Regions from separate parts of the Homo sapiens genome. Here region 1 is linked to region 2. A link means that fine-mapping ties the variant in region 2 to the expression of a gene that starts in the linked region. Tissue or cell type: whole blood. Region 2 holds a variant in brackets; the other region holds the start of a gene. All regions are shown on one strand. Distances are between the middles of the regions.

What was found.
Region 1: it holds the start of HS6ST1, and the variant in region 2 is fine-mapped to the expression of HS6ST1 in whole blood (TOPMed, PIP 0.99).

The regions. Positions count from the first base shown.
Region 1 is chr2:128,312,838-128,328,242 of GRCh38, forward strand. It overlaps HS6ST1 (heparan sulfate 6-O-sulfotransferase 1), which reads right to left and starts at 6,031. Exons shown (of 2, transcript NM_004807.3): 1 at 5,200-6,031. The coding sequence starts at 5,726. RefSeq lists enhancers at 3,889-4,038, 10,066-10,998 and silencers at 5,040-5,269, 5,964-6,373, 9,030-9,349, 9,390-9,599.
Region 2 is chr2:128,287,327-128,302,731 of GRCh38, forward strand. All of the region lies in intron 1 of HS6ST1 (heparan sulfate 6-O-sulfotransferase 1), which reads right to left. Among named protein-coding and RNA genes, the nearest start is that of HS6ST1, 24 kb to the right of the region's middle. RefSeq lists enhancers at 507-1,336, 7,795-8,344, 12,616-13,214, 13,215-13,812, 13,813-14,411. The variant C/T (reference allele first, on the strand shown) is at 5,454.

The DNA of each region.
Region 1 (15,405 bases), 26 kb after region 2:
TCACCTGAGGTCCCGAGTTCGAGACTAGCCTGGCCAACATGGTGAAACCCCGTCTTTACTAAAAATATAAAAAAAATTAGCCAAGTGTAGTGACGGGCACCTGTAATCCCAGCTACGTGGGAGGCTGAGGTCGGACAATCGCTTGAAACTGGTAGGCAGAGGTTGCAGTGAGCTGAGATCGTGCCATCATTGTCCAGACTGCACCGGACAGAGTGAGACTCCATCTCAAAAAAAAAATTCACATGCTATTCAGTACCAATGAGTGTGCCACTGACATGGGTGCTCACAGACCACAGGTGGGAGCATACCAGGAGTGGGTGTTCTGAAGAGGAAGGTAACATTTGTACCAAGAGCAGTAAAGACATTCAGACTATTCAACTCAGAAATTCCACTCCTAGGAATCTCCAGAGGAAATCAGAGCTATGCAGAACATTTACACACAAGGAGCAGTCCTGCAGCAGTCCCCACAGAGTACAGAATGAGCAACCTGCGCACTCACCCACTGCCAACCAGCGGTGGCACACTCAGAGCGGAGCAGCTGCAGCCACTCAAATATTAAGTTTTTAATGACAACAGACAACATTTATGGTGAAATTTATATGATGGCTTCAATTACAGTGGAAAAACCATGCATGGGGAATGGATGATTTTCCTTTTCTCCCTCTGCCTCATACTTTCCTCCCACTCATCTACCAAACAATCATTATAACCACAACAAAGCGGGGTGTGAGAGCAAAAGCCTCCAACTCCCCGAAGGACGACAAGACCAGGCCCCTTCTCCTCCTCCCTCCTGGGCCCTGGAGGATGCCAGACCCAAGGTGGCCACTCCCCCGTGTGGCAGCCAGAACTCCTGCTGAGAAAGAAACCTGGATTCCCTGGCCCTAGGGACCAAGGTGGGCACTGCACTCTCTGGGACTGGGCTCTCTGATCCAGGAGCAGGAGTCCCCAGGCCCCAGTTTTATGCGTGAAGTGCCTAGGACAGGAAGCTGTGGCTTGAAGACCACCAGAGCAGCATGGCAGAAATGATCCCCCAAGCTAGAGGACCATCTAAAACGATCCTGTCACCCAACCATTCGTAAGTTTGCCTTATCATGTGTTTGCTTAAAAAAAAAAAAAAAGGATTTTTTATCTATTTTTAGTGAAAATCTAGGAGCATCTTGACCACAGATTCCCTTCTCATCTTAACCAAAGGCCTCTCTAGGCAATGTAGGCACAGTGACACCCCCAGCCTGGTCCCCAGGTCCTGTTCATTGGCCCCAGTCACATGCTCTGGGTAACATCTGTCCCCATCACAGCAGATGAGGGTTTCTCCCTTGATCTCAAAGAAGAAAGCGATTATGAAGGTAAGGTGGAAACTGTCGCATGCCACAGAAACGAAGGCTCTCATCCAAGCCCACCCCTACCTGGTCTGCCCCACCAAGGAGTCCCCAGGTTCTCAGGGAACACCATGACACTCAAGACTGACTCCGTGAACCTGAGTCACAGGGAAAGGGCAGGGACAGAGCCCAGATCCTGCAGAGTCCAGGAAAAAAAAATTCCCATGGTGCCAGCATGAGGGCAGTGCCAAGGTGGCACGGTGTCAGATGGGACAGCAGTCGAGGCGCCTAAGGCAACAGGGGAGCCTAGGAACAGAAAGCCAGGGAAGATTTCCTGGAGGAAGGGGCATCTGAGCAGACTGAAGGGAGGGGAGGAGCAGGCAGAAAAGTGGGAGAGGAGAGCAGGCACACCAGGTGGACGGCACACAGGTCCAGCACCAGGCGGATTTCTGGAGTCTGAGAAGGCTTCAGGATCACGGAGGGCAGGTCAAAGGCGAGGCTGCGGGCTCCTGCGCCATCCCTCCAGCAAGGAAGCACTGGTCTCTGCAGGGCAACGTCACAGAGGCTGCGAGCCCACTAAGGGCTCCAGAGAGGCCCTGGTGCAGAGAGGATGTGAGCTGGTCCCGGGTTCCCGGCCAAGGTGGCCCAGATGCCACACTTGGGCTCCAGATGCCCTCCGTGGCCCCAAATGAAGCCCACATGATTTCAGGGACATTTCCAGGGTGGCCCGGGCAAGACCTTGACCATGCCTGTTCTTGCGTTGCCTTCAGGCAGACGGGAAGAGGAAGGAGGGAGGTTCTGGCTCTGGAGCACCATCTGGACCCTCTGAGTGACAGCGGAGTGTGGGGTGCTGAGACATTCTAACCGAGTGGTCCCTGGAATGGCTGGCCATTTGGCTGCTGCCTGGGGATGGCCACACCTCTTTAAGGCCAGCCAGCAAACGTCCTTCCAGTGGAGTCTTACAAGCACCCTGGCTGATGTCGGCAGATGAGGCAGCCCCCATGGTGAACACAGGACTAAACAGGGACCCGCCAATGCTCTGCTCACTCTTGTTCCTTTCTACCAAGGCAGCCAAGCACTAACAGCCACTAGAAGTTCCAAACCATATTCCAGGAAGACATCAAAAACCTGTCCATCTCCATGGATGCCCAGCTCAGAGCAGCCCAGGCTGATACTGTGCAATGGGGAGGCTGGCAGCCGGGAAGAGCCCCACCTCTCTTACGCGCACCACAGGCCCACTGAGACCCTCCCAAACCGCAGCAGGGAATGGGAGGGGCTTGGTGGAGAGGTTCCAGGAGCCAGCCTTGGGCAGGGAGGCAGGCAGAGATAGAAGGAAAAGAGGGTCTCAGTCCCCAGAGAACACGGAGATGGCAGTGCAGAGCCAGAGTGAAGACATCGCAGGAGGGCCAGGGTGACACCTGAGTCTCCTGACACCAAGCCCACTTAACATGAGGCACCCCAGCAGGGATGGGCACTGCCCCTGATAGAGAGTTGCTGGGTCCCTGGGCAGATGGGGGAAGTGCATCCCAACCGCCACAGCAGAGCAGCTTAGCCCAGCTCCAGCCTGGGCCAGAAGACTCAGGTGGCGGGGCAGCGCTCAGCAGGTGGACCTCAGTGCAGCTTGGCCCTGCGAGCACAAAGGCAAGATTACCTTGGCCTCCTGATGAAGCTCATTAAAAAAGCAATCTACCTAGTGCCTGCAACAGAACTGAAGGGAGTGGAGGCGGAGAAGAGGGACTCGGAGGGTGGGGTGCTGTCACCTGCCCGGTAGCACAACCCACTTCCAGAGTGGGTGGCAGAGGGGGCCTCCTGACGGCCCTGGAAGCCCCTCCCAACCCTGGCGCATGCTGCTGAGCTAGCAATTTCCAGGCTGGCAGCCCACCTCCGCCAGAGGCATCTGCGTTTTCCATTCTTGCTCCACACATGCTCCCTGGGCAGGGGGAGCCGGGCCTTCCTGGTGTAGCACCTGGGGCCCCATCGGCCCCACCTGGTCCTCCCACTCTCATGGACAAACTCCAGAGAAAGGAGGCCAAGGCTCTTCACCCTGGGGACCCACAGGCGTGCGGGGCTGCAGGAAGAGCATCCTGGTTGCAATCTAGGGCTGAGGTGGCCTCTGCTGAGCAGGCTTGTTTCAAAAGCTCCGGCTTCTTGGCGGCCCGAAGCTTCCACGCAATCCTCTTAGGCTGCCGAGCTAAGTCCCTCTGGCAAAGGGGGTGACCCCCATCCTTGCACCCCCCACAGGTAGGGAGGCGTCTGTTGGTATTGGTCAGTGACCAACTCTGGGAGCCTACTGCTCTGACTGGTGGAAGGGTGGGTGGGGGCATGGCTGTGGTCCCAGGCACAGCTGAGCCTAGCACAGAGAAGCTGGACCAGGGTTAGGGGGGCCCTGCAGCAGGAACGTGCATCTGTGCAGAGCAGACTAAGTGCTGGGCCGGAAGCAATCCTTCAGGGGCCCTAGACAGGCAGCTCTGTGACCGCCAAGTGTAGAATGTGGCTGTAAGAGGCTCAGAACATCACCTCCCAGGCTGGGAGCTGCAGTGTGTGTGTGTGTGTGGGTGTGTGTGTGTACAGTTGGGGGAGGGGGGAGAAAGAAAAGTGGGAAGATGCCCCTCCAACTCTAGGACCCCAATTTCCTGACAGCCTGAGAAAGACCACAGAGCAAGGATTGAGGTCTGTGCAGGGGAGCAGTGTCTCGGACTCTGCTCAGCTCCAGGCTGGCTGGACCTTCCAGGCTCCCCAGGCACACCTGAGAGCCTACAGCCTCTGGACCCAAGAGTGCCAGCCAACACGCCTACAACCGCCCAGCCTCCTACCACCAGCCTGTCTGCAAATTCAGTCCTAAGGCAAATTTGGAAGAGAAACAAAAGGCAGACAAGAAGCCCTGCTCCTGGCCCTTCCCAGCCCAGACTTTGGGGAGAAAGGCCCCGCAGGGCATCCCTGCAGGACGAATGGGCACCAACAGGAACAGGAGGAAAATAACCCCAACTTTAACTGCTGGAAACCCAGCAGCACCCCAGGTTCCCCTACAAACGGCTTCCCAGAAGAGCTGCCCCGGCACCCCTCCCATGCTCTGTGTCCTCACGCAGCTCAGCTCTGACATGGGGCTGGGGGACCCCAGAGAAGGGGTGTGGCAGCACAGGTTCCCTGGACCAGCTCAACTACCCCCAACCTGGCTGGTAGCTTCCTGGGGAAGGTGGTCCCCCATCGGGTGGCTTTTGTTCCTCTCTCCAGGCAAGCCTGTGCCTGGAAGAATTCGGCTGGCAGGCCCCACTGGGAGGACAGGCGGTACTGCCTCCTCCCCGCCCCCAGCCCCAGGTCAACAGGGCCTTTGTTCTACCTGCACACACCGGCAGGCAGGCGGGCAGAGCCAGCCCCCTTCCCTGGCAGCTCCCCCACCCTCTGAAGGCAGGCACTCCAGGCACAGGGGCGGCACCTCACTACTCTCACTTCCACTTTTGGGACCACAGCACCGAAGCGGCACGGGGAAGCCAACACTCCAGGTAGGCCACGCACACACCCAGAAGCCCGCGTCCCCAAGTCCGGCGGGCCAGACCTCACGGCGCACAGCAGGTAAGGTGGCCCGAGGGCAGCGGGCGGGGACCCTGGAGAAAACCCGGGCGCTGCGCAGTCAAGCCGGCAGTAGGGCAGCACAAGGCAAGGAAGAGAGTGAGAGCGAGGTCAGAAAGCGCGGTGACAGCCGGCTCACCCAGAGGAGCTGGGAGCCTCGGGCGCTCGGCAGGTCGGGAGGGGTGCCGGCGAGTGGGGGCCCCCAAGAGGGCAGAAGGGGGTAGGGAAGGCAGGGCCGACCCAGTACAGCACGGCGGGCATACGGCCCGGCCTCGGGGGCGCAGCTGCGCGAGGATCCCGCCGCCCGGGCGCTCACCTGGGCGTGCGCAGCGCGGCGGAGTCGCGGCGGTCCAGCACGCCGGGCACGCAGTTGGTGAGCTCGGTCCAGTCGGCGTGCAGCCCGCAGCTCCAGCCGGTGGAGAAGCGGGAGAAGAGCCAAGTCTCGCGGCGGTTGGGCCGGTAGCAGGTGCACTTCTTCTGGCCGGGCCGGCAGTCGCACGGCACCTCGAGGCGTACGTTCTGCACGAGGTGGCGGCCGAAGGTGGTGCCGCCCGTCTTCTGGATGTGCAGGAAGACGATCACGTCGTCGCCCTTCATGTCGAAGCGCAGCGAGCGCTCCAGCTCGCGGACCGGGAAGTAGTACTTCTTCTCGTAGTGGGGGTCGGGTGTGGGGAACAGGTCCAGGTCGTCGGGCGGCGCGCGGCCGCCGGGCGCGCCCAGGCTCAGTCCTGGGCCCGCGTACTGGTACAAGATGAGCATGAAGCACACCGAGCCCGCCACCACCAGCACGAACTTGCTGGCGCGCTCAACCATGGTCCTGCCGCCGGCGCGCCGCCGCCGCATGTGTCACCATCGCCGGGGCCCGGGCGCGGGGCGCGGGGCCTGGGAGGGCAGGAGGCGCGGGCGCAGCTGCCTCCGCCGCCGCCCGCGCTCCGGCCCGGCCCGGCTACTCGGCGCCCAGGCCGCCCGCAGCGGCGCGGGCCCCGACCCTCCGCGGTGCCATGGCTGCTCCCCGCCCGGCCCCGGCTCCCCGGGCCCGACGCCCGACTCCGCTCCCGCTCGGCCCCGCTCCCGGCCCCGGCCAGCACAGCGCTCTCCGCGCCCCCAGCACCAGCCCGCTCCGCTCCACTCCGCGCCGAGAACGCTCTGCGCCGCCCCGCGCGCCGCCGCGTCTCCGCAGTCCGCCGCCGCCGCCCCGCCCCGGTCCGCCCCTGGCCCGCCCCCGTGGCGTCTCTTGCCGTCGCCGCCCGCGCCGATCCTCGGCCCCGCCTCCGGAGTGCCGGGGTTCGCCGCGGGTGCTGGGCGCGGGACCTGGGTCTGCTGCGGTGGCGAGGCCGCTAGCAGGCGGGCAGCCAGCGACTGGGAAGTGATTCCGCCCTCAGGGGAGTGGGGGACCAACCGGCAGTGCGGAGCCGAGGCGTGGGAGGCTCTCCTGGCGGGGGCCGCGGTGAGGGGGCGCGGCGGCTGGCGCTTCTGGAGCCTGGGTCCGTACCCCCTCCTCCCCAAGTCCCAGCCGCCCACGTCCCCGCAGCCCGCGCGGGAGGAAAGGCCTTGACCTTGCACGCTGGGGCGCTGAAGTTAGACGCTAGCCTACTGGGCTGCACTTCCAGGGACCAGGGCGGCGGGGGCCGCCCACCACCAGGACCGAGAGGGAAAGCGAGGCTTTCCTTTCCTGCTCGACCCCCTCACCCCTGCGGCTGGCTTTGGGACAGTGCCCCGCAGCCCCGCATTGAAGAGATGTTGGGCTGTCTGCAGAGGCCTGCGGAGCGGCTTTATGGCTTCCTCCTTGTTTGAAAAGAATATCAGACGAGGTGCATTTTCCCCCATCCATGTTTATTATACTCCAATGAAAGAGTTATAAAACATTGAGCCAATTCTTAAGAATCGTGAGTGCCCACCAAATATTCTGTCTTTCGTGGGTTGGTTGGAGAGTCCAGCGGCCCGGGCCCAACCTGGCTGCGGAGGGCTCGCTCCACGTTGGCTCGTGTGTGGGCCGGGTGGTGCGGGCTCCTCACTCGCCGCCGCCCAGCCTGGCAAGCACGCGCGGCATTCGTGGGGCGGGGGGTCCCGCCAGGTGCCCACTCACACTGCTTGGGCTCTGGCAGTACTCGGAGGCTGCAGCCCGTCGGAAGCGCAGGAGTGGGGCTGGGACCTGCCAGGATCTCACAGCTGCAGGGCCGGCCGCGGTGGGCCCTAGTGTGTTGGTTCAGGCCAGCGAGGGCTCTGGGAGCGAGTCTGGCTGCCAGGCGTGGGCTCCCAGTGTCCACGTCAAGCCCTGCCGGGGACGGGGTGGGGGGGGAGGCGGGGTGGTGCCCTGCCTTCCGTTCTGTTAGGGACCGGAAGCGATCATGGGGTGTCAATTATGCCTCAGTAAAGCTGTTAAACGTAGACAACATCACACCAGAAAGCCCTCCTGGAAGCAAACCCAGAGAGCTGGAAAAACCAACACCCCAAACCCAGCTGAGCGGGCGGCATGCATTTTCCAAAGGGACCGCAAGAATATCCGCTGTGGACAGGCGGGTGCAGAACCCTCAACACAGCCCAGCGCACCCTGGAGTCCATGGTGTGGGGTCCTCAGTGGGACCTAGGGCCCCAAAGCCCCTGCTCATCTTGTAGGCTGCTTTAAAACTGTCCCTGGCCCGAGGGTCCTGGGGGCAGCTTGGACAAGCTTCTCCAGAAGTGACTCATTCCTATAGGAGTGGGGGTGCAGTCCCCATGGGACACAGGTGGGGCCGCCCTGCAGTGTGCTTGGACCTGCCTGCAGCCCCTTGACGCAGTCTGTGCCTGAGCCCTGGGGAGCCTTCCTGTGTGGCCTAGGGGAGCACAGCTGCCCCGGGTCCACCCCCCAGATGTCCTTACCCAGATAAGGATCCTCGTGCTACATCATAATTAAGGCTGCTCTTTTGGAGACCTGCTGGGTGCCAGGCATTGTAGAGGTGTCATTTCCAATTCCATCAGCAAATCTGCGGGGGTAGGCTGTGATATCCATTTACAGAAGAGAAAACTGAGGTTCAAAGGGGTTAAGACCCTGGTTCCAAGGTCAACCACTCTCACCCCATGAGAGTCAGCAGAGCTGGGATCCTGATTCCTGCTGTGAGCCCCAGAACCCTCCCCTTCCCCACCTCTGCACTTGCCCCAGCTCCCTAGGCCAGGGATGAGAGCGTCTACAGGGGCCACTCCTGAGAGCCTGGTGACCGTCACTGCCACCAAGGGGGAACGTGGGCCCAGAGTGTTCAAGGGAAAGCTGGAGCAGCTCCGAAGGCCAACGAAGCCATCGGTACTTGGGCCATGGCTCCACCCTGTGATGATCTCACTGTCCCAAGGGGGAAACTGAGGCCCAGGCAGGGACGAAGTGCCTGTGATAAGGTCCCACCCTTGAATGGGAGCCAGAGCAGCCTGACCCATGGAGCAACATCTCCCAGAACAAGCTATTTAATCCAACTTCATACCTGCCACACTGGCTGATGGGAAGCACTCACATTAGCCAGGAAGCCCTTTCTTTCTAGAATTCTTTTAAGAGGAGGGAAATCTGCCTGGCTGGCTACAGGACTTTGCTCAGTCTTCCACTTTGATTGAAGCCCTGCACAGGCACCTGAGACCCTAAGGCTGTAGGTGAGTTTCTGGGCTCTGAAAGTCAAGTCAGATGAGCCACCCATCAATCAGTGGACACTTGAGCCGAGTGGAAGGCAGCTCGAGCCCTCGTTGGCGGGGCAGCTTGCATCACGCTACTCCCCACCACTTCCCGCTACTCCCCGCGATGAGTCCTCAGTGTCATGTCTTGGAAAATGGATAGAAACGCACAGTCTGGGGCTGGCGTGGGGTTCCAGGAGGTCAGCGGACACAGCCAGGGTCTCAGGAGGCGCGCTCTGCGCGCTGTTTCCTTTCTTCCCTGGGTGATCTCCTGCGTGGCCAAGGTTTGCCCCAGCCCCGAGAGTGCATATGAGCTAAGTGTTTGCTAGGGGCAGCTTCTGGCCCTGACTGCTTGTGGGGTCCAAGGAAAAGCACTGGCAGCTCTTCTGCTCAGTGGCTTTGTCCCCTGAAGATCCACTTCACCAATTCTTTAATGCGTGATCTCTGACTTAATGGCAAAGAAAAGTAAAAGAACACGGCTTAGTGGCAGGCTGTGATGATCCCAGAAGAGGCATTAACATTCGGCTTCAGGAATGAAGCCTCATTCCCGGCCCACCGTGCGGTCTCAGAGTCTGAGAACCACGAGATCAACAGCGGCGCCCCCTCCCGGCGCACAGTCCCGCGGACGGCCGCGCGGGGGCAGCACGCGGCCCGGCCCCCGAGCGCCCGCGGTTGACTTTGCAAAAAATTGGGGGATTTTCCACACTCGCTTCCCTCGTCGTTCGTCCGGCGGCCGCCCATTGTTGTTTGCCAAGGGGTGGAGGAGGGCAGTCGTGTCTGTCCTCAGAGCCTCCCGTGGGGCTGGCCCCGCTGCCCACGCGGGGCAGAGAGAGGGGTTTCGTTTGGGGACAAACTTTTAGAGGGGACTCCGGCTCGCGCGGACCCGCGGGGCCCGGCCCCGGCCCCGACCCCGACCCGGCGGCAGGCTTGGGGCGCCGGGCTGCGCGCCGTGGACGCCACCTTCTCCGAGGTCGCCAGGCCCCGTCCGCAGCCGCCTCCTCCAGGGAGCCCGCGGCCCCTTTGCCGCCCAGCGGCCCCGTGCCGGGCTCCTCCCCCAGCACCGCGGGGCGCCTGGGCTCCCAGGCAGCCCGCAGACGCGGCAGGTCTTCCCAGGACCCGAGGGACGCGCTCCGGCCGCTGCCCGGGGACAGCAGGGGTCCTGCGGTTCGGTTCGAGGACCGCGCTGGAAGAGGCCCGGGGCTTCGGAAGGGCCATTCCCCTCCCTCCACGCCCGCCCAGGGCCTCGCTGTTCTTTGTGCCCTTTCTCTAGGCCCTCCAGGCCCGCTTCAGTCCTTAGGGGAAGAGGGTAGGATAAACAGAAGAGGAGAACCTGAGCAATTCGTAGGGGCAGCGTGGTCCTGGGCTTCCCCGGCCCTTGCCCGCCCCCCCCGCCCTGCTGGCTCGGTGACCTCCCCCTGGCTGGCCCCCTGCCCTCGCGTGTGACGTGGGGTTGTTGGCAAGTGGGGGGCTTGGACTGCTGCCTGGCCGGGATTCGGAGTCTGTCCAGTGGAGCCCACCCTCCTCCCCGGGCAGCGGGACTGTGGGCAGGCCTGGCGGGTTCTGCCAGCTTGGGAGGCAGGACAGGGACCTGGTAACGTTGCCCCAAGGGCATCGTCCTGGTTCTTCTGCTTGAAACTTCCCAAGGGACATGTCTTTAGACGACTAGGGTGGAGGCGGGATCACAGCCTGGATGGGGTGGGGGGTGACTGCTCGCAGCTTCCGGTGGCCAGTGGGTCTCCTCCCAGATGGCTGTCATTCACTGCCCAGAGGGGTTCCGACTCGGCCGGGTCGGGGGAGCCACCAGAGAGGGCACTGAGCAGCTTGACAAGCTCCACTGTTGGGGATGTTCCCTGGGGGTGGGGTGGGGTGGATGGCGGCTCTTTTGAGGGTGAAATGTTCTAGTCCGAGAAAAGTCACTCAACCATGGGGTGCTTGCTGCTCCCACCCCAGCTGCCTAAGCCACCAGGGGCCGGGGCACAGGTGGAAGAAGGTGGCCTCAGTCCTGGGCCCTGATGCCTAGAAGGGCATGGTCAGTGCCCTCCAGGCAGCCTTGCCTGATCGTTGGGGCTCGGGACCAGCTCCCACTCTGCTCCACTCTCTGCTGGCTGGACTGGCCACCCCTCTGTCTGTGGAATTCACTTGGTGCCAGTGCCCTTCCTGGAGGATGATGGCCGGCCCCCATGCTCCTCGTCACCAGGTCCTGCTCTTTTTACCTCCATTCATCGCCACTGCTATTAAAGAGTCGCCCTCTTGCTAGATTACAGTTGGCTTGACAAGTCAGTTGACTGTTCTGATGGAAGCTTCTTCTTGGGCAGGGCCCCAGGGCCTTGGTGGGACCCGGGCCCTGGGTGGGGGCACAGAGGTGGGACACAATGATGGCTTTATGGAGCAGGCCCTGCCCGCCCCTGTGGCACTGTGGGGAGGGGGCTCACCTGTCCCTAGGCCAGGGCTCAGCACGGCAGCGGTAAACCTGGCTGGCCTTGACACTTCCTGGAATCTCTCAGTGACCACGTTTCTTTTTGCACCAAATAGCTATGGTTCTTGCTGTTCGTTTCTCTCCCTGCCCTCCTTTAAGAAGGAGAGTTCGTGGGAATTAGACACTCAGGGTTGGGGGAGGGTAACCTTGGCTCCTGGTGGGAGGAGTCTGCGTCCTTCTCTGGGCCCAGGGCCTATGGGGCAGCAACAGCATCTCCTCTATTCTCAGAGCATCCAGGGACAGGGTCACACCATGGGTGTGTGGTACACCAGGTCGTCCACCTGGCTGAAGGCCTGGGCTGGTGACAAGTGCTGTGGTGCTGTTCAGGCCAGCAGAAAAGAGGGAGGCACATTTCTGTCAGCAGACGGGATGGGGTATGGCTCACACCTGCTGGGCTGGAGGCTGTGCTCCACCCAGGGCCTCAGGCTGTGTCTTTGACAACAATAATCACCCTATGGGCAAGGTCTGCGTGCTGAGCCCTTGTCAGTCACATCTCTTATAATCCAACAGCAGCTCTGTGGGCCTCTCCTTACAGATGGGGAGGCTGAGCCCCAGGGACATGAGGCCACTTGCCAAGGTCACAGAGCCAGTGGGTGCTCAGCTGAGGCCGCGAGGCTGGGAGAGGCACCCCTCAGGTAAGGGGGCTGGAGAAGGGAGTCCACACCAATGCCACCCACGTCTATACCGTCGTGACTGCCATGCAGTCTTGACCAGCCTTGGGCCGGGTGAGGGCCTCCTGGTACGTGTTTTGCCCTTGACTTTGGCTTTTGGGTGACTGGGGTTGGGACACTCCTCCTACCCTCAGGCTGGTCCCTGGAGGGACCACCTGGGCTGGGGGCCAAGGAGGAAGGTCTCAGCCTCAGTTGTAGGAAAACAAAGTTAAACATTATCATTAGGAGTAAAGGTGCTATGTTCACACCCCAGCTCTGTCTAACCAGCTGTGTGGCCTTCACCAAGTTACTTAACCTCTCTGAGCCTTGGTTTCCTCATCTGTAAAGTGAGGATAATAATGGGACCTACTTCATAGGGTCATGGTAAGCAATAAGCAAGCAAACGCTTATTCCACAGCCCTGTCTACGCCAAGGGCTAGGTATTCCTACTGTCGATTTGTGGGAAGCACCCTATCAGCATCCGCATATTCAAAACCAGCTACTCGGCTTCTCCTGTGTGCCAGGCCCTCCTGTGCGCTGGCCTCCTCTGTGCATGATTGTATTCAGTGCTCTCGGCTGCCCTATGGGCATAATTCCCTCATTTCTCAGGTCAGGGAGCTGAGGCTGAGCAGAGGATAGTGACTTGGCCAAGGGGACAGTGTCCCCTCCCTGGTGAGAGCCTTGGTTGAGGGTCCTCTCCACCTTCCCATTTCCCGACTCCCAGCCCTTGGAGAAACCCAAGTCCTGGGCTCCTGGGCAGAGCCTAGCCCCCAGCCCCCAGCCCGGCCTGGACCACGTCCTCCTGCCGGGTGGGGTTGTAAGGTGCCCTGCTGCTGGGCTGTTCCTCCTGTCCTAGGGTCTTGACGCGCTTACCTTCCTCTTCCATCTTTCCACGCCCTCCTTTGACTCTATCTCTGGTGCCATTTCCAGGGTTTGTAGCTGAGCTTAGAAGAGGGGAGCTGGAGAAATGGGTCTATACCTCCTTGTCCAGACCAGAACTCAATCATAGCTTTTTCTTTTTATCTGCTCCCATCTTCTTGAGAGCCCATCCCACTGTGTGGCAGAGAAAACCTGTATTACTTCCATCCTGTAATCCCAGTCTGATCCAATAATTGTTAGGCTCTATTTGATTTCTTGACTTTTGTTTACGAAGAGTTTAAATTCACACAGAAGTAGAGAGGGTAGCACAGTGAGCCAATTCCTGCCCTTACCCGGAGTCTCCGGCTTCCACGGCTGGCAGCACGTGCCTGTCCCTGCTGCAGCCTGCCCTCTCCAGCGGAGCACCAAAAGCCAACCCAGGACAACACAGGCTTTCCCTGCTAGTGCTGCCCTCTGCTTTCTAGCTTCAGGTCACCCTCGGGCCCTGTCTCAAGGCTGCTTGGTCCCTACTCACACACCCCAAGAGAATGTGTGGTCTTCCGAGATCTGAATTCTTTGGGAGTCCCAGAGGGCCCCAAAGCAAGAGCAAAGGGCGAGGTTCATAGGCAGCGGCTGGCCCCGGTGTGAGCTGGCCACTGTCCAGCTAGGGAGGCTGATGGAGCCTGCTTGGCGTGCCATGGGCACAGGCACCAGGCCTGCAGCTGGCAGGACTCTGGGCCTTACCACAACCCCCAGACCTGGCTGTCATGGGAAAAGCCCAGCCCCGGTGGGCCATGGGGGGGCCAGCCTGCCCCTGCCCATACCTCAGTCAAGCTCTGCATCCCCATTTGAGGCATAAGAAGCCTCTGGGCTCTATTTCTGCCACAGAGAAACCCAGGAAGGACAAACTCAGCCCCTCTGCTCCACCGTGTCTATCCTGCTGGGCCTGCCCTGCAGAGCAGCCTATACCCAGAGGCTCCTAAGGGCAGACAGAGCCCCTCACAGACACCTCTGTATTCCAGGACATCTACTCCTATCTTGAAATATTAAGAGATAAAAGATTTACAAAATCCTCATCTCAACAAAGTCTGCCTTTCAAGCCCGTGGGCCAGGTGCAAACTCAGAAAGCCTGGTTTTGGAATTCTAAAGCCGAGTTTTCATTCTTGAGAGTCCAGGCCGCCTGAGGCAAAAAGATGCCTCCTGCAGAAGAGGGAGGTGGCAGGACCAGGAGATGCAAATGAGATGGGTGTATTCACATATTTCAAACAATGTGATCAAGTTGTACAGAACTGAACACACACACACCAATGAGAGCAGGCAGAACTGGGGAAATCTGAACAAGGTTGCTGCTGTCCCCGTGTTATAGCCTGCTTGAAATACTGTGCTGTATTTCCACAGGATGTTAGCCACTTGCCACTGGGGGAGACTGGTGAAGGAACTCAACTGCGTGCAAACCCACAGTTATAATAAAAAGTTTAACGTGAAGAAAAGCACATCTGACCAGGTGCAGTGGCTCCCGCCTGTAATCCCAGCACTTTGGGAGGCCGAGGCGGGCGGATTACCTGAGGTTGGGAGTTTGAGACCAGCCTGACCAACATAGAGAAACCCCGTCTCTACTAAAAATGCAAAATCAGCTGGGCATGGTGGCACATGCCTGTAATCTCAGCTACTTGGGAGGCTGAGGCAGGAGAATCGCTTGAACCCGGGAGGTGGAGGTTGTGGTGAGCCGAGATTGCGCCATTGCACTCCAGCCTGGGCAACAAGAGTGAAACTCTGTCTCAAAAAAAAAAAAAAGAAAGAAAGAAAAGTACATCTGCGTCTGGAGGGAGTGGGCATCACGGTGCCAGTCTCCTGGCCCTGTGAGGCCTACAGGGTGCACCGTGTGGGCCCTGCCCACCTGCCGTCTGATCAGTACTCATCAAAGGTGGGTATGAATGATGGAAGAGCAGTCCTGTCCAGGCACCTGCTCTGTTCGCCCGAGACTCCCTGTGACTGCAGCCCAGTGCTGGCCTGCGCCTCCCAGCCTTGGCCTGTGGGGCCTGGTCTGGCTTGCTGCCCTGGCTGGGACTGCCAATGAGAGGGGCAGTCCTGCTCCCAGGTTCAGGCAAGTGGCACAGGCCCAGTCCAAGCACCCTCCGACCATCCTCCGCCATCTCTAGCCCTCTGGTTTTTGTGCCCCTTTTACCAGGATTTTACTTCCCCAGCAGGGCTAGGCCCTGGGCAAAGAGAATCAGATGGATAACTTTGAAATGCTGGCTCCAGGGCCAGCCAGAGTCTGTAGGGGGCCTCTTGTAGGGGGCCTGGGCACCAAGTTTGAAATGCTTGTGAGTGATTGTGACATGGAGCTAGGGCTGAGAACACCCATTCCACCTGCCCACCTGTCCCTGGAACAGGGGTGGTGGCTTGGGCCTGGCTCTATGCTGGGCTGGAATCTGTAGGAGCTAGTGGGCAAGCCTCCTTCCAGGAGCTAGGCTCAGGGGAGGAGAGTGGCCGTTTTATTCCTGCCCTGCAGCCACGTCACCCGCCCCCTTCAGATGCACCCATTTCCCACTGTAGCACCTGGGCCTGGGCTGGGGCAGAGTGGAATAGCAAGCTGAAGCGTATTCAGTTTCTGAAATTTTTAACAGGTGGATTTTTTTTTTTTGTAATTATCAACTCTGGAAAACATTTAAACTGTAGGGAAGTAGAAAACTGTTGTAAGGAAAAAATGCCATTCATCTATACTTTAATTATTTAGAATGAACTCCTAATGATGTTTTTATTTCTTTCTGGTCTTTTTTCTTTTGCATGTTCATGTAGCAGTTGAGAGCACACCACATGCATGGTGTTGAATCTTGCTTTATTTCGCTTAATATTTTATCCCAAGCATTTTCGTAAATTGCTAAGAATAACTTCATAAACATAATAT
Region 2 (15,405 bases):
GAGATGCACTGCCCAGCTGTGGGCAGGGACAGCTGCCCCCCCTACTCAGTGAGGGTGAACGAGACCCCCAGCAGGTCCCCTGACGGGCTGCTTCTCCAACAGCACTGAAGTGGGGGTGCACAGAGAACTGGGCAGAGAGCCGGGATGTGAGGCTTAGGACTGCCTCCACCTAGCAGGTGTCAGGTAAGGCTGTGACTTCTGGAGGTCCTAGAAGTCACCCCCAGGGTAGGGGCCACAAGAGGAGGTGCTGACAATGTCCTCCCAGCAGGGCCAGCTAGAGACGCCGGGTCCAGGGGTGCTCTGCACCAGCCCTCTTCAATGAGGGGAGAACAGGCGGATGGCTTTCTGGGAGCTTGACCCTGTCCAAAAGCCCAGCATGGCTGTGAGCAGCCCGGGCCCAGATGCTGCTGACTGGACACCTGGAATGGGGCTCTGCCGAGGTCTTCCATGAGCAGAAGGGGTGAGGACCACCTCCTCACCTGTGTCCCACTGCCCTTCAGACTCTCCTGCCTGCTGCTCCAAGGCAGGGCTCCAGCAAGGCCATGAGGGCCCTGCGGGGCTGCTCGCCGGTCATGAAGGCTGCCCATTCATATTTCACACCTGCCTGCCTGGCACTTTCTGGCTTCTGACACCGGCAGGCGAGATGTCACTTATGCCTGAACGCACACACTCATACCTTGGGGTCAGGAGAAGGTGACAGTGCCCTGCTTCTTCACAGGGCACGCAGTCGAGCAGCAGGGCAGCTGACTAGGGGCGGGCTGGCTCGGCCTGAGACCTGTCTCCAGAGCCATGGCCTCCTCTTGTCCTGGCCAAGAGCTCTGGGGCTCACTCCTTCTGCTTCTAGGCCTTTTGCTGAGGCTATTGCGAGGACTCACGTGGCCCTTCCTCTTCCTTACAGCCTGTAACTACACATCCACCATGGCTGCTTGGGCCCACCAAGAGAGACGTGGAGGCCCGAGAGGGAGGCTGGCGGCAGCGTCAGGTCCTGCCGGGGTGTGCAGTATTTGTACCCTGCTATGAAACTGTCCCTGCCAGGTGAGAAAGTGCTCAGGGCCCTGAGGCCAGCCAGCACGACTTGATACCTACGCCCGGTGACTCCATGGCAGTAGAAAAGCACAGCCCTTCTGGGGACTCTGCATTAACACAGAAGCTCATATCTGTGTGCACAATGGGCAAAAGAGCCACATCAAAGCTTGTGGGTACAGCCTGATGCCAACTCTGGAAAACACATCAACTGGAGAGATGGAGCAGAAATGCAACCCGCGCCAGGTGCCCTGGGCCTAGTGCCCTGGGCCATTTTTTCTTTTACTTTTTCTGTATTTTTCCGATTTTATATAACCATGCATGTATTAGAAAACAAACAAACAAACAAAACAATCTAATCTGACTTTCTCACAGGAGGTAGGAGAGTCAGGGAGGCCTGGGAGGCTCAGGGCCTCCCCAGCAGCCTCTCAGGACATCTCCAAAGCCACAGGATCATCACCAGTAATCAGCCTTTCTCGGGGTCAGGAGGGCGAGAGCTCATCTGAGGATCACTGGGGGTGTCCCTGGGACCCCTCCAGGCTCCACCTCCTGCTGACCCCACAGCAACTCATGTCAGGGTCCGAGGCAAAGTCCTGGTTCTCACCCACGACCCCACAGAGCCTCTCTGCAGCGAAGAGGGGCTGACACCTGCTCCCTCAACCCCCGAGTCCATATAAACACAGAGGCGGCCGCGGAGAGATGGCCTTGCATGCTCTTGAATGTAGACTATTCTTCCCCAGACAGGGAAATTCAGAGCCTAAACAGCCCACCCCAGAGATAAGCCATTCTGTGCCCAAGCTAACTGCAGTATCCAACTCTATACTCCCATGGCCCTGGCTCTACTTACAAGGAGGGCGACAGCTCCGGGTGATGCACTGAGAAAGCTGTCACCTGAGCAGTGACCCTGGGGACTCGGGAATGCTGACTCTCCAGAACCAGCCATTTTATGGCCCCCCATCAAGCACTTCTGTGGTTGGTGCCTCCAAAAAAGGTTAGGGCCCAGCAGGCATTTGCTCATTTTATTCCTGCAACCCCGGTACGGTCGCCACTATTAGATCCCCCTGCAGATGGGCAAATGGAGACTCAGAGATCCTTCTGCAGCCAAAGTCTCCCAGATACCAGAGGTGTCTGACTTCATAGGCCACAAGGCATGTCTGCTGCTCACCCACGTGCACGGTCCCTGAGATGAGCAGCACGAAGCTCCCAGGAGAACCCGGCGCGCCATTGGCAGCACCAGAAAACAGGTCTCCAGCTTGCTAAGGGATCTGCCATCCAGCAGCTGTGTGGCCCTGACGAGTTCCCCAAGGAATGCATCTGTCATCTGTTTCCTCCTTGCACAAAACAAGACAATATGCCTCCTGGAGGTCACAGCATGACGCTCGGCATGAGGATGGGCCCACCCCAGCTGGCAGGGAAAGAGAGGAAGCTGCCGGAACAGACCTACCTGCTTTCACCAACCACAGGCCAGAGGCACCAGGAGAACATGTAAGAGATAGAGAGAGGATAGCTGTCAGTCAAATTATTTGTATAAAATGTCCAAATATAAGTCACAAATAGCCCGATAATCTCAAAAAGCAAAAATCAAAGCAGTAGTTTAAAATCTTCCTAAAATATTGAGGAAATGCCTGCAGCTTACATTCAAATGATTCTACTAAAATGCAAAAGCATGTATATAACTACATATATAAATATACATGTAAGTACACATGTATCTACAGATATACATATATGTAAACAGCAAGTGAGAGCACCCACTCACAAGCACAAATATTGCAAAATGTTAACAAGCAGTGGGTCTCGGTGAAAGGTATGAGGTTCACTTTACTACCATTTCAACGACTTTGTAAGTTTGACATTTTTCAAGATAAAAAGTTAGGGGTAAAATTCCTACAAAGAAAGTGCTGGGCTATTTCTACCAAATTTTAAAAGAACCAGATTTTTGTAAGCAAACCCTCCTAGACAAGAGTAAAGCAGTGGACACTCCCAATTCATTCTATGAGGCCAACATAATCCTAATACCGAAGTTGGACAAATGCACAAGAGAGGAAAATTGCAGCCTGGTGGACACATCTGCTAAGCTCAGAGTTCAAATATAGATACAAAAATTCCTCAACAAAAATCTTATCAAATCCAACCCAATTGAGCATATAAAAGATATTACACTACGACCATACTTAGTAACCCCAGGTATGCAAGGATGGCTTAACAGGAGAAAATCCATACATGTGACTCATCACAGCAACAGACTACAGAGCTCAGTAAATGTGTAAGAAGCATCTGCTAAAAACACTATTCATAATAAAAACTCTCAGGAAACTAGGAATAGAAGTCCCTTAATTTGGCCAGGCGTGGTAGCTCACACTTGTAATCCCAGCACTTTGGGAGGCTGAGGCAGGTGGATGACTTGAGGTCAGGAGTTCAAGACCAGCCTTGCCAACATGGCGAAACACCGTCTCTACTAAAAATACAAAAAAAAAAAAAAAAAAAAAAAAAAAATTTAGCATGCATGATGGCACGCACCTATAAAGAGGCTGAGGCGTAAGAATCACTTGAACCCAGGAAGTGGAGGTTGCAGTGAGCGGAGATCGTGTCATAGCACTCCAGCCTGGGCAAAAGAGTGAAACTGTCTCAAATTAAAAAAAAAAGTTCCTTAATTTGATAAAGTATCCCCAAAACCTAGAGCAAGCATGGTCCCCATGGGGAAGAGTCAGATGCATTCCCTCTAAGATCATGAATAAGACAAAGATGTCCACTCTCTCTAAGGCAATTCTGCATGTACTGGGGATCTCAGCTGACACAATAAAACAAGGAGGAACTAGGGACCTAACTGTCCCAGTAGAGTCCCCTTGCCTGTCCTTCTTGTCTTTAGTGAGTACCCCGTGCAGGCATTACTAGGCTGGGGGCTTCACACACCCTCTCAGACAGCCGGAGTCCCGGCATGGGGGAGGGCTACTTTTCTTGCCCACTGCCCTTGCCCTGGGTCCAGAGCACCCCATAGTTAAGGCTGTGGGTTTGCGCTCAGTGAGGTGTGAGTCCTGGAGGTTTGGGGCGGCCATGGCACTGGAGCAGCAGAAGGAAGCATTAGCCTCCTCAGTCTGGATCCTCACTGTGTCTCTTGGGGGCTAGACCTCTGGCAGGGAGGGCCCCAGGCACTGGGTGAGCTCAGAAGGTGCGTCAGCGGGAGCAGCTGGCTTCTAAATGAGCTCACCAGGGCCTGAGGGAGAGCCCCTGGCTGCAGGACCTGGGTCCTCCACAGGCTGACGCCATGCCTGGGGCAAGGTGGACCTCAAGGGAGCCAGGGCACAGGCTGTGTGCCTCACCTGGCCTGGCCTCTCCAGCCTGGGGCTCTTGTTGCCTCATACCAGTCCTGCTGCTTTCCATCACTTGGCCCCTCCTCTTTCCACGGGGAGGCCCTGGACAGACCTCACGGAGGCAACCCAGCAAGGATGTGGCTAACAGCTGTGCAGGGGCGCCGGCGGGCATCTGTCCACAGGCTCTTCCCCAAGGGCATACACAGGCTTCCCTATAGGTGCTTCTTGCCCTCCATTCCTTCCGTCCAACACCCTCCCTGCTCAGGGCTGACAGGCTCCTCTGAATGCACACTCTTCTCAACGCCAGGGGAGACCCTGCCAAGCTCCTCCATCCTAGGGTGGCTGTGTGGGGAAGGGTCCGGCTCAGGAGAAGGCCCCTGGATGCCAGGAGAGGGGCCTGGATGGAGCCGGCAGGGGAGGCGGCACAGGGCAACAGTGAGGAGGGTGAACTGAGGCCGGGGGGGCTGGGCCCAGCAAGAGTGCCAGGGATTCCTGGCCCTGCCCAGCTCTAGGCCCTCTCAGTGCCACAGAGACCACCTGGTGAAGGTGTGGGGAGAGGGATCCCCAGAGGGTCCATGCCAGGCAGTCTGGGCCTGCTCACACCATGTGTATCCTTCCATAGGGCCCACGCCTGGCAGGACCCTGGCTTGGAGCGGCTTTAACTGTGGCTGGGCTCCTGAGGAGGTAAGGTGGGCCCTGTGTTCCACGCCCAGCTACCCACCCAACACCTTCTCAGGGCAGGGACGCCCACACCAGTCTGGACACAGAACAACCCGGGGCGAGACACGTACTGGAGAAGACTGTGCTCCTCACCCCGGCGCTCTGGGACCTTGCTTCCCAGAAGCTGGAAGGAACCAGCCAGGCATCCCGGCGAGGATGTGGAGGGTGGTGGTGGGCCCACCCCTGCCTCAGGGAGGGCGGCCAGGCTCACGGGGAGGCTGTGGCATGTGGGCATGTGAGTGGGCAGGGACAGCCCAGCAAGGGCTGTGGGAAGCCGGGAGGGCAGTGCCCTGTGCAGTGGCTCCAGATTCAGGGCATTCAGTGTGCAGCAGGCCAGGGCAAATGGCACGGGGGGAATGGGGCGGAGGGGAGGGGCGGTGACTCACAAGGCCATGGGGG[C/T]GGGCAGAGGAACAAGGGCAGCAGGAAGGGCAGGCAGGGGTGCTATCAGCTGACGGGCTCCTGCTGGAAAAGACGGCTCGACTCACAGGAGGGCACCTGAGACATGGGGTGTGGGGGAAGGCAGCGGTCGGGGAGAGCCTAGGCAGGCCTCCCACTTGTCAGCCTCCCCAACTCTGTTGCCACTCCTACTGCAAAAGAGCCCTGGAGACCACCCTGGGTCTGGGGTCCTTGCCGTGGCTGCAGCCCCCCGCTGCCCACAGCCTGTGTGGTTCCACCCATGGGCCTGGTGGAGCTGGTCCCTGCTCTGCTCCGCCACACCAGGCCTCCCTCCCCAAAGGCTGGGCCTTGCTCTGCATGCAGTGGGGCCCAAACCAGCCAGGCACTCCAGCGTCCCACCCGCACACCCTGTCTCCTGCGGAAGGGCACCGCTCCCAGGCACAGCCCGCTCTGAGCCAGGGGCATGTCACACAATATGGCGCTTTTCTCCTCTTCTGGCCTGGCTCCCCATAAGCCTGCCCAAGGGCCAGCCTGGGCCTGGGCAGAGCAAGGCCTGGGAATGGCTAAGGCTTTGAGGCCTGGAATGAAGCATGACCGTCACTCCCTAAAGCCATGAGTAAAGCTAGTCTGAGGAGTAACTGTGGCGGCTGCCACCACCTGCTGGGCACTTTCCTTGCAAACACTGGGGTGGCTCCAGATTTCCCAGAAACCACTGTTCCTCATACCCCAGGACGGGAGGGGACCTTCGAAGTTGGAAGGAGAGCAGCAGCAGACCATGGTCCGAGGGGCGCTTCCCGGGGCCACAGCTTTGGGGGATGTTTAGCAAAACCAGGGGCTGGTATGGCCTGGAGGGCCCGGAGTCAGAGGAGGAACATGCTCCCAGATTCTTTGGGGCCCACGGGGACAGAGGGCAAAGAGAGACCATCAGGTGGCCTCAGGTCACCAGTGAAGGAAGGCGAGTTACATTTATACCAAGCACCTGTTTTGGGGGTCCTCTGGGGGATGAGGAAGGTTGGATTAACCACCAGCTCAGAAGGCCAGTGCTATGTGAGCAGGGTCTGTGGCCACATAGGATCCAGTTAGTCCTGTGGTCAGCCTCTAAGTGTGGAATGGCCATGCTGAGCCAGGCAGAAGCTGACCCAGTCCTGCTGAACATCCCAGGGCAATGGTTTCACCACAGGTTGGGGGTCCATGCTGAGACCACGCTGCAGGGACACAGGGGCACCATGTGGGTCCCGAAGCCAGTAGGCTTGGCTCTGTACCTCCTTGAGGGCAGGGCCCTGCCCTCTCCTCTCTGCACCTGCCCTGCTGGCCCAGACCCTCTGCTGGAAACCTGCCCCAAACTCCATGAAGCACTGTCCTTCACATCACAGCTTCTGAGCCTGGACTTGACAGCCTCCTCCTGAGACCCCACATGGCTCTTCTGTCATACACGCCCTGTGCCCGGCCCTGGCACTGTGCTCTGGATGGCCTGCACCAGGCTAGTGACAATTCACTGACTCTACTGCATCAGAGGGGGCACAGGGCGGGGTGGGCTGTGATGGAGGGCCCCGGGCCCTGCCCATGAAGTGCCGCAGTCCCCGAGGGAGGGGAGGGCTCTCCTTGCTAGTGCTTGGGTCTTCCTTTGTTCTCAGCCTGTCTACTGGGTAGGTGGGACTTGCCACCTTTAGAAACTTGTTCACCCTGGGGCAGCCTGTCAGAGTCAAGAGGCGCTGGCTGTCCTTAAGATGACACCAGTTTCAATAGGTTGGTGGCCCAGGTAGGATGGAGACGCTGTCACACTCCCACCTGGGAGCTGCGGCCCCTCTGAGGACAAGTGCTCTGGGGCCTGGAGAGCTGGGAGAAGAAGGTGGGCTACTGGGCAGTAAAGAGGCTCCACCGCAAAGAAGGGAGGCGTGTGTGTGTGTGTGTGTGTGTGTGTGTGTGTGTGTGTGTGTGTGGAGGGGGAGACAAAAGAGGTCTTCGGACCACCCTCCCACACCCAGGCTCTGGGATTTCCTGACTGTGGCCCACAAGGTACAGGGGTGTCAGCCTGGGTGGGCAGGCCCTGGAGCCTCCTGCTTCCTGAAACTCCTTCCTTCAGGCACATTTGTGCTGATTCTCCATGGACACAGCCCTAGCACCCCCAGAGAGGCTCCAAGGAACAAGGAAAATAAGAAGCAGTTGCCAGGATACCCAAGGCTCAGTGGGCCCCATGACCTACTCCAAACCACCTCCCCCTCTTGGTTTTCCTGTGTGGCAAGGCAGAAATGCAGGAGTCTGAAGGCAGAGGGGTCTGGATGTGCCCAGTGAGGAACCAGCAACTGAGTGACCATGCGCAGATCCAGTGCCCTCTGAGCCCTGGGTCCCTCTGTCCTGAAGGGCTACTGTGAACACCGTGAGATGTTGCCGGCTGATGGCACAGGCAGCATCCTTGCTGCCTCCCCTGTGCTGGGCACACCCATACTGGCTCATTTGGTTCTCTCCTCACTCCAGGGCAATGGGTACCATTCTTCTCTCCACTTCAGGGCAGGGGGTACCACTCCTCTCCGTTTATAGTTGAGGAGTCAGGCACAGTGAGGTGAAGGCCCTTGCTCAGGGCCACACAGCTAGGCAGCTGCCTGGGTGTCCACACCCTTGACTGCCAGGGCTTGTGACTAGGCTCCCAGCACATGCTGGGACCTGAGAGGCTCTCCTGGGACTAACACAAATCTTTCCCAAACTTTTCCAAAAATCTGAAGTGAAAAGAATACTTCCTAACTCATTCTATGAGGTCAGTATTATCCTGATATCAAAGCCAGACAAAGATATAACAAGAAAATTACACACTGATGTCCTTTATAAATACTGATGAAAATATCCTCAGCAAAATACTTGCAAATTGAATTGAACAGCATATAAAAATGATTATGTATCATGACCAAGTGAGATTTATCCCTAGAATGAAAGGATGGTTCAAAATATGAAAATCAATGTAGTATGCCACATTAACAGAATGAAGGAAAAAAACACATGATCATCTCAACTGATGCAGAAACATCATTTGACAAAATTCAATGCACCTGCATAATAAAAACTTTCAACAAACTAGAACCAGAAGGAAACTACCTCAGTGTAATAAAGGCCATTGCTATGGACTGAATGTGTGTGTTCCACCAAAACTCATGTTGAAGTCCTAATCTCCAACGTGATGGCATTTGGAGGTGGCGACTCTGAGAGGTAATTAGGTCATGAGGGTGGAGCCATAATGAATGGGACCAGTGGCTTCATAAGAGAAGACATGAGAGATGATTTCTTCTCTCTTGGCCATGGGAGATGCAGGGGATACAAGACAGGCAACAAGCCCTCACCAGTTCCACATCTGCTGGCTCCTTCATCTGGGACTTGGGTCTCAAGAACTGTGAGAAATAAACACTTGCTGCTTGAGCCACCCAGGCTATAGTGTTTGTAATAGAGGCTGAGCTAAGACAGCCAGATATGAAAAACTCACAGTTAACATCATATTCAATGGTGAAACACCAAAAGCTTTCCTCTACTTTGGGAACAAGGCAAAGATGTCTACTTTTGCCACAGCTATTCATCAGAGTACCGGAAGTTCTAGCCTGAGCAATCAGGTAAGAAAAATAAGTAAAAGGTATTCAGATTGGAAAGAAAAAAGGAAAGTTATCTCTCTTCTCAGATGACATAATCTTATATGTAGATAATGCTAAAGAATCCACTTCCACACACAAAAACCTGTTAGAGCTAATAAACTAACTTAACAATGTTGTTAAAGTAAAAATTAAAAGAAATCAGTTGTATTTCTATTCACTAGCAACAAACAATACAAGAAGGAAATTAACAAAACAATTATGTTTTTGTTGGCATCAGAAAGTGTAAAATATTTAGGAGGAGACTTAACCAATGAAGTGAAATACTTGTAAACTAAAAACTACAAAACACTGATGAAAGAAATTAAAGACAACCCCAGTAAATGGAAAATCATCCCATGTCCATGAACTGAAAGACCTACTATCATTAAGATGTAAATACTACTCATGTAATCTACAGATTTAATGAAATCCCTATCACAACCCCAACAGTATTTGCTGCATAAATAGAGTAACTTAACCTAAAATTCATATGAAATTTCAAGGGATTTTGAATAGCTAAAGTACTTGACAAAAAAGAATGGCTCATGTCTGTAATCCCAGCACTTTGGGAGGCCAATGAGGGAGGATTGTTTGAGCCTGGGAGGTTAAGGCTGCAGTGAGCCAGGTTCACATCACTGCACCTTAGCCTGGATGACAAAGCGAGACCCTGTCTCAAAAACAAACAAAAAAAACCCCAAACCAAAACAAATACAAAACAAAGTTGGACTCCCATTTCCTGATTTCAAAACTTAACTACAAAGCTATGGTAGTCAAATCAGTGTGGTACTGTCATAAAGATAGGCATATAGACCAATGGAATACGATAAAGAGCCCAGAAATCAACCCTTGCATATATGGTCAAATGGTGCCAAGACCATTCAATGGGGAAAACACACTCTTTTCAACAAATGGTGCTGGGGAAACTGGATTTCCACATGTAAAAGAAGGAAATTGGACCCTTATCTAACATTATACATAGAAATTAACTCAAAATGGATTAATGACCAATGGTAAGACCTAAAACTGTCAACTCTTAGAACACAGGAAAAAAGCTTTATGATACTAGATTTGGCAATGATCTCTTGAATATGACATCCAAACACAGGTAACAAAAGAAAAGCTAGATTAATTGGGCTTCATCAAAATTAAAAACATTTAGGCTGGGCATGGTGGCTTATGCCTATAATTCTAGCACTTTGGGAGGCCGAGGTGGGTGATCCACCTGATCATGAGGTCAGGAGTTCGAGACCAGCCTGACCAACATGGAGAAACCCCGTCTCTACTAAAAATACAGAAATTAGCTGGGCGTGGTGGCACATGCCTGTAATCCCAGCGACTCAGGAGGCTGAGGCACGAGAATCGCTTGAACCTGGGAAGCAGAGGTTGCGGTGAGCCGAGATGACACCATTGCACTACAGCCTGGGCAACAAGAGTGAAACTCTGTTTCAAAAACAAAACAAAACAAAAAATTGAAAATATTTGTGCATCAAAGGATAGTATCAACAGAGTGAAACGCAACCCACAGAATGGAAGAAAATATTTGTAAATCATATATCTGATAAGAGATTAATATCCAGAATATATAAAGAACTCCTATAACTTAACAACCCAATTAAAAAATGTGCGACATTTGAGTAGACATTTCCCCAAAGAAGACAGACCAATGGCCAACAAGCAGATATAAGATGAACATCGTTAGCCATTAGGGAAATGCAAATCAATACCACAATGAGATTCCACTTCACATCCATCAGACTGGCTATTATCAAAAAACAGGAAGAAATGTTAGCAAGGATGTAGAGAAACTGGAACCCTTCTGCAGTGCTGGTGGGAAGGTAAAATGGTACAGCTACTGTAGAAAGCAGTATGGTGGTTTCTCAAAAAAAATGAGATACAGAATTACCATATGATCTAGCAATTCCTCTTTTAGATATATTCCCAAACAATCTAAAAGCAGAGACTTAAACAGATATTTGTACACCCATGTTCCCAGCAGCATCATTCACAATAGCAAGAAGGGAGCAGCCAAGAGTCCACTGACAGATGAAGGGATGATGAGCAAAATATGGTACATATAGACGATGGAGTATTACTCAGCCCTAAAAAGGAAGGCGATTCTGACACAGGATAAAATATGGATGAACCTTAAAGACATTATGCTAAGCCAGTCGTGAAAAGACAGTATCATATAATTCCACTTAAATCCGCTATCTAGAGTAGCCAAATTCATAGTCAGGAAGTAGGATGGACGGCGTGAGAGGCTGGAGGGAGGGGAATGAGGAGTTCGTGTTTAATGGGGTCAGAGCTCAGTTTGGGAAGATGAAAAAGTTCTGGAGACGGATGATGGTGATGACTGTACAATGTGAATGTACTTCATGCCACTGAACTGTACACTCAAAAATGGTTAGAATGGTAAATTTTATGTTATGCATACTTCACCACAATAAAAAACAAAAAAAGGCTTTCCCACAACGAGTGTCCTCAAGAGCCAAGTCCCAACAGCTTCTCAGGAGGGAAAGCAGCACGTCCCTGGGCGCGGCCACCCTGGGCCCACCAGTGGGGCTGGCCCAGGCCTAACCCACCCCTCACTCCCTCTCCCTCCTGCATGACTGTGTGGGGTACTCCTCGGCTCTCGGAATGAGAGGACCAGAGGCCAAGGGCACCAGAATCGGCCTCAGATGGGGCAGAAACACACCTGGACGTGGCCCAGGGCCGAGGTGTGACCTAGCCAAGGACCCAGTTTCTGTTCTTTGCAGGGACAGAGCAGGCTTCGCAAGTGCCTGCCTCCTGCCATGCAGCAGAGAGCACACAGCTCCCTCCTTGCTCTGCACCACAACTCCCCGACGCACCCCAACAGCATGGGAGGTGGTGTTCTGCTCTCCCGTCCTCCAAAGGAGCAAACTGAGGCCACAGCTGCACCCTTGGACACAGGCCCATCAGCAGGAGCGAGCCCTCTGCCCTGGCCGGCCCACTCTTAGCAAACTATAAGAGGTCAACACAACACAGATTGCAAATTATGCTGCTGAGGCTCTGCTGGCCCCAGTCTCAGTGTGACATGTGGGGAAACTGAGTGGATGGCAGGTCATGCCCTATCCTCCAGACCCCTACGCTGGACACTCCAGGCCCAATGAGGAAGAGCCACAGCAGCAGCTGAAGGCACATTGAGGCCCAGCCCCATGTGGTGGATGAGGAAACTGAAGCAGAGAGCTCACAAGCCGGTGAGGAGCACAGTGGATCTCTGTCTTTGAAGGCCACGCGTGACCTGTGCCAGGCCCCCGGCAGAAAGCTGGGGCACAGAGGGTAATCACAGTGGGCCAGGCCTGCCTGGAAAGACCCCAGCTGGCGGAGAGACAGAGGCACACAGGGTAGGGAGCTGTGGCTGAGAGGCTCATAACCCCTCCCCCATCCCGGCCCTGCTAACACAGCCCATCTGCCAGGCGGAGGCTGGGGGTGCTGGCGAGGGCAGCAGACCCCTGGGCTCTGAGCAGACGGAGGAAACACAGCTTGTGGCAGCACAAACACCAGCGCCAGCAAGGCAGGGTGGCTCTGGTGGGCAGAGGGCTACCCCACCTCCAGGCCGGGGTCTTGCCAGCCGCTTCCCATCAGCACTCAGATTGTCTTGTGAAGCCCAGGCTGGGGCAGCATGGGAGAGTCAGGCCTGGACCCGGGTGACACTCTGCTTATACTGCTGAATTCACCAAACCAAGGACCCCAGCGGCTTCCTCTGTAAAATGGGGGGCTTCTCCAAAGTTCCAAGCACACTCCAAGCTCCTGCAACCAGAACTACAGGCCCATCCCCAACCCACGGCATTAAGCTGAGGGCATAGCTGGCATGGACGAGGCTGTGCAGGAGGCCCACACAGCGGAGCCTGCCCTCCGGAGAGGGCCTGCAGCCCCAGGACACAGCTACCATCCCTACCTGGACCCTGGCAGGGATGGGACACTGGAGAAGAGGGGGGGACCACCCACCCTCTCCCAAACCAGCGCCGCCTTGGGCCATGCTGGTGACCAGGTGTGGCTTCCACAGTACGCCTGCCCCCAGCCCTGCACCTGGGCCACGTCAAGGGGGCCGTGTGTTCGCGGAGGTGTCTACCTGGGGCGCTGTGTGCACGGGGGTATCTCTGGGTTCTTGGGCCCTGAAGCTGAGCAGCTCCAGTCCCTCTCCCAGCAAGTAGGGAGGGACAGCTGGGACCCCCATAGGACTGTCTGTCTAGCACCTGTTGTAATTAATCTCTTCGGGGGAGGCTGTAACTAAGGGCAGGGTGGGCGGACCACCTTGAGTTACGCAGGTGGAGGACGAGGATGCCCAGGACTGGGCCCAACTTCTGCCCGGCAGCATCACCTGGCCACACCCAGGGCCCCTGCCATGCCAGCTGTGCCCACAGTCAATCCATGAGATGCCTAGGGCAGACCCTCCTCCCAGCTGCTCTGGGCGTGTCTCACCCTCCAGAGCAGCTAGCCCCACACCCCGTCTGAGCCTCCGCCAGTATCTTTCTCAAGGGAGAGCCGCCACCGTGTGCTGTGTGTGGTGGGGGTGGGTGCAATGGCACATGCCTAAGAAATGAGTGCCTCTGTCATTGTCATTAGCTGGGGAGGGCAAAAGAAAGGAATGGGAGCCCTGGGTCACAAAGTTTGAGGAGTCTGGGCTTTTGGCTGCTTGGGTACATGCAGCAACAGCCTCCTGAATGGTCTATAGAAACCAGCCTTCCCTCCCTCTGTGAGGGGCAGGGGTTTCTGGGGGCTGCGTAGCTCTAGCCGCCCCTCTGTGTGGGACTGGGGTCGCCGGGGGCTGCATGGCTCTAGCCACTCCTCTGTGAGGGGCAGGGGTTCCCGGGGGCTGCGTAGCTCTAGCCACCCCTCTGTGTGAGGCAGGGCTGCATGGCTCCTGTACCCCTCTGTGTTGGGCAGAGATCCCCAGGGGCTGCATGGCTCCTGCGCCCTGTGTGTCAGGCAGGGGTTCCCAGGGGCCATGTGGCTCCAGGCTACCCTTCCTGTGTCTGCAATGACAGCAGATCGTCTTTGGAAAAGCATCTCCTCTAATATCCTGGGACCATTTCAAAGACTTCTGAGAGCTCAGGATGGAAGAGCAGCCCAGCTCAGAATGGAAAATTGCTCAGCTCTTAAAGGGACCAGTGGGAAGGAATTTCAAATACGAAGAAACATCCCCAAGTGCCAACCACTTGTAAGGAAAAAAGGAATTCTTGTTCCAGAATGTTTCTGAGTCACCACTGGCGCCAAAGCATGAGCTACTGCTGGGGATGTGTGTATATGAGCGTGAGCGTGCGTGTGTGGGAGAGCGTGCGTGCTTTGTCAGCCCCTGGTCAACCCTGGGAGTTCTCCAGCCTCTCACCCTCAGGGGTACATGTGTGCTGGTTTGAAGCCTGCAGCTGATCCTGCCCGCTGGGCCCAGCCTCCATGGGGTCCCCGGCACTCATGGACATCGGGCAGCATGTGTTCCTGGGCCCCACTGGCTCACGCAGGCATCACGGCTGCCAGACAGTCAGGGACACCATGCTGGCCGGTGTCTCCCTAGTGGGAACAGCTCAGAGGCTCCAGCTTGGCCTGAGGGGAGGGAAGGCAGAGGACTGGGCTCTCCATGGTGCCGCCAGCTCCTCTCCCTGGATAAAGTCATGCCCCAATGAGAAGACATTCCCGCCAGAGCCCTGAAGCCAGTCCCATCCCTCAGGACACCCTGAGGCAGTAGGTGTCACTGCTCAGTGTGACCAGAGTGGAGGCTGTGCATGGGGACTTCTGGCCAGGTGCTGTGCTCCAAGCTGGCGCTGCTGCCTCAGGGAGTCTGAGAGGTGTAACTAGGGGAGGATACCTGGTCTCAGGCCCCATGACTCACTGGCCGCCTGCTAAACTGGGGACCTTGAGGTCAAAGAATGCCATGGGCAGCACACATGGGTCAGGCTGAGCTGGAGCTGTGCAGCCAAGGCTGGCGTGCATGTGTGTCTGCATGTTTACTGATGTGTACGTGGTGTGTTCACATGTGGGAGTGCATGTGTGGGACTCTCTCACTAAGCATCCAGCTGAAGACACTCCCATCTGATCCACTCCCTCCCAGCCCCAGCCCTGTGACCATCTGCAGCTCCTCTAGGTGTAGGGCTAACGGTTCCCCAAGGGTGGACCCAGTCCTCTCTTGGGGCCCAGGAATAGCTCTGCACGCAGGTGCTGGTGACTGAGTGGCTCCTTGACATGGTGGCTCCCTCCCAAACCCCCTGCTACTCCTGTGCCTGGTGGCTGGCTCCCCTCCCCTCACTCCCTCAAGCTGCACTTGGGATGCTCCCCACCAAGCCCCTGCCACCACGGGGCTTCAAGGCATTTCCTGATTCAGGCCCAGC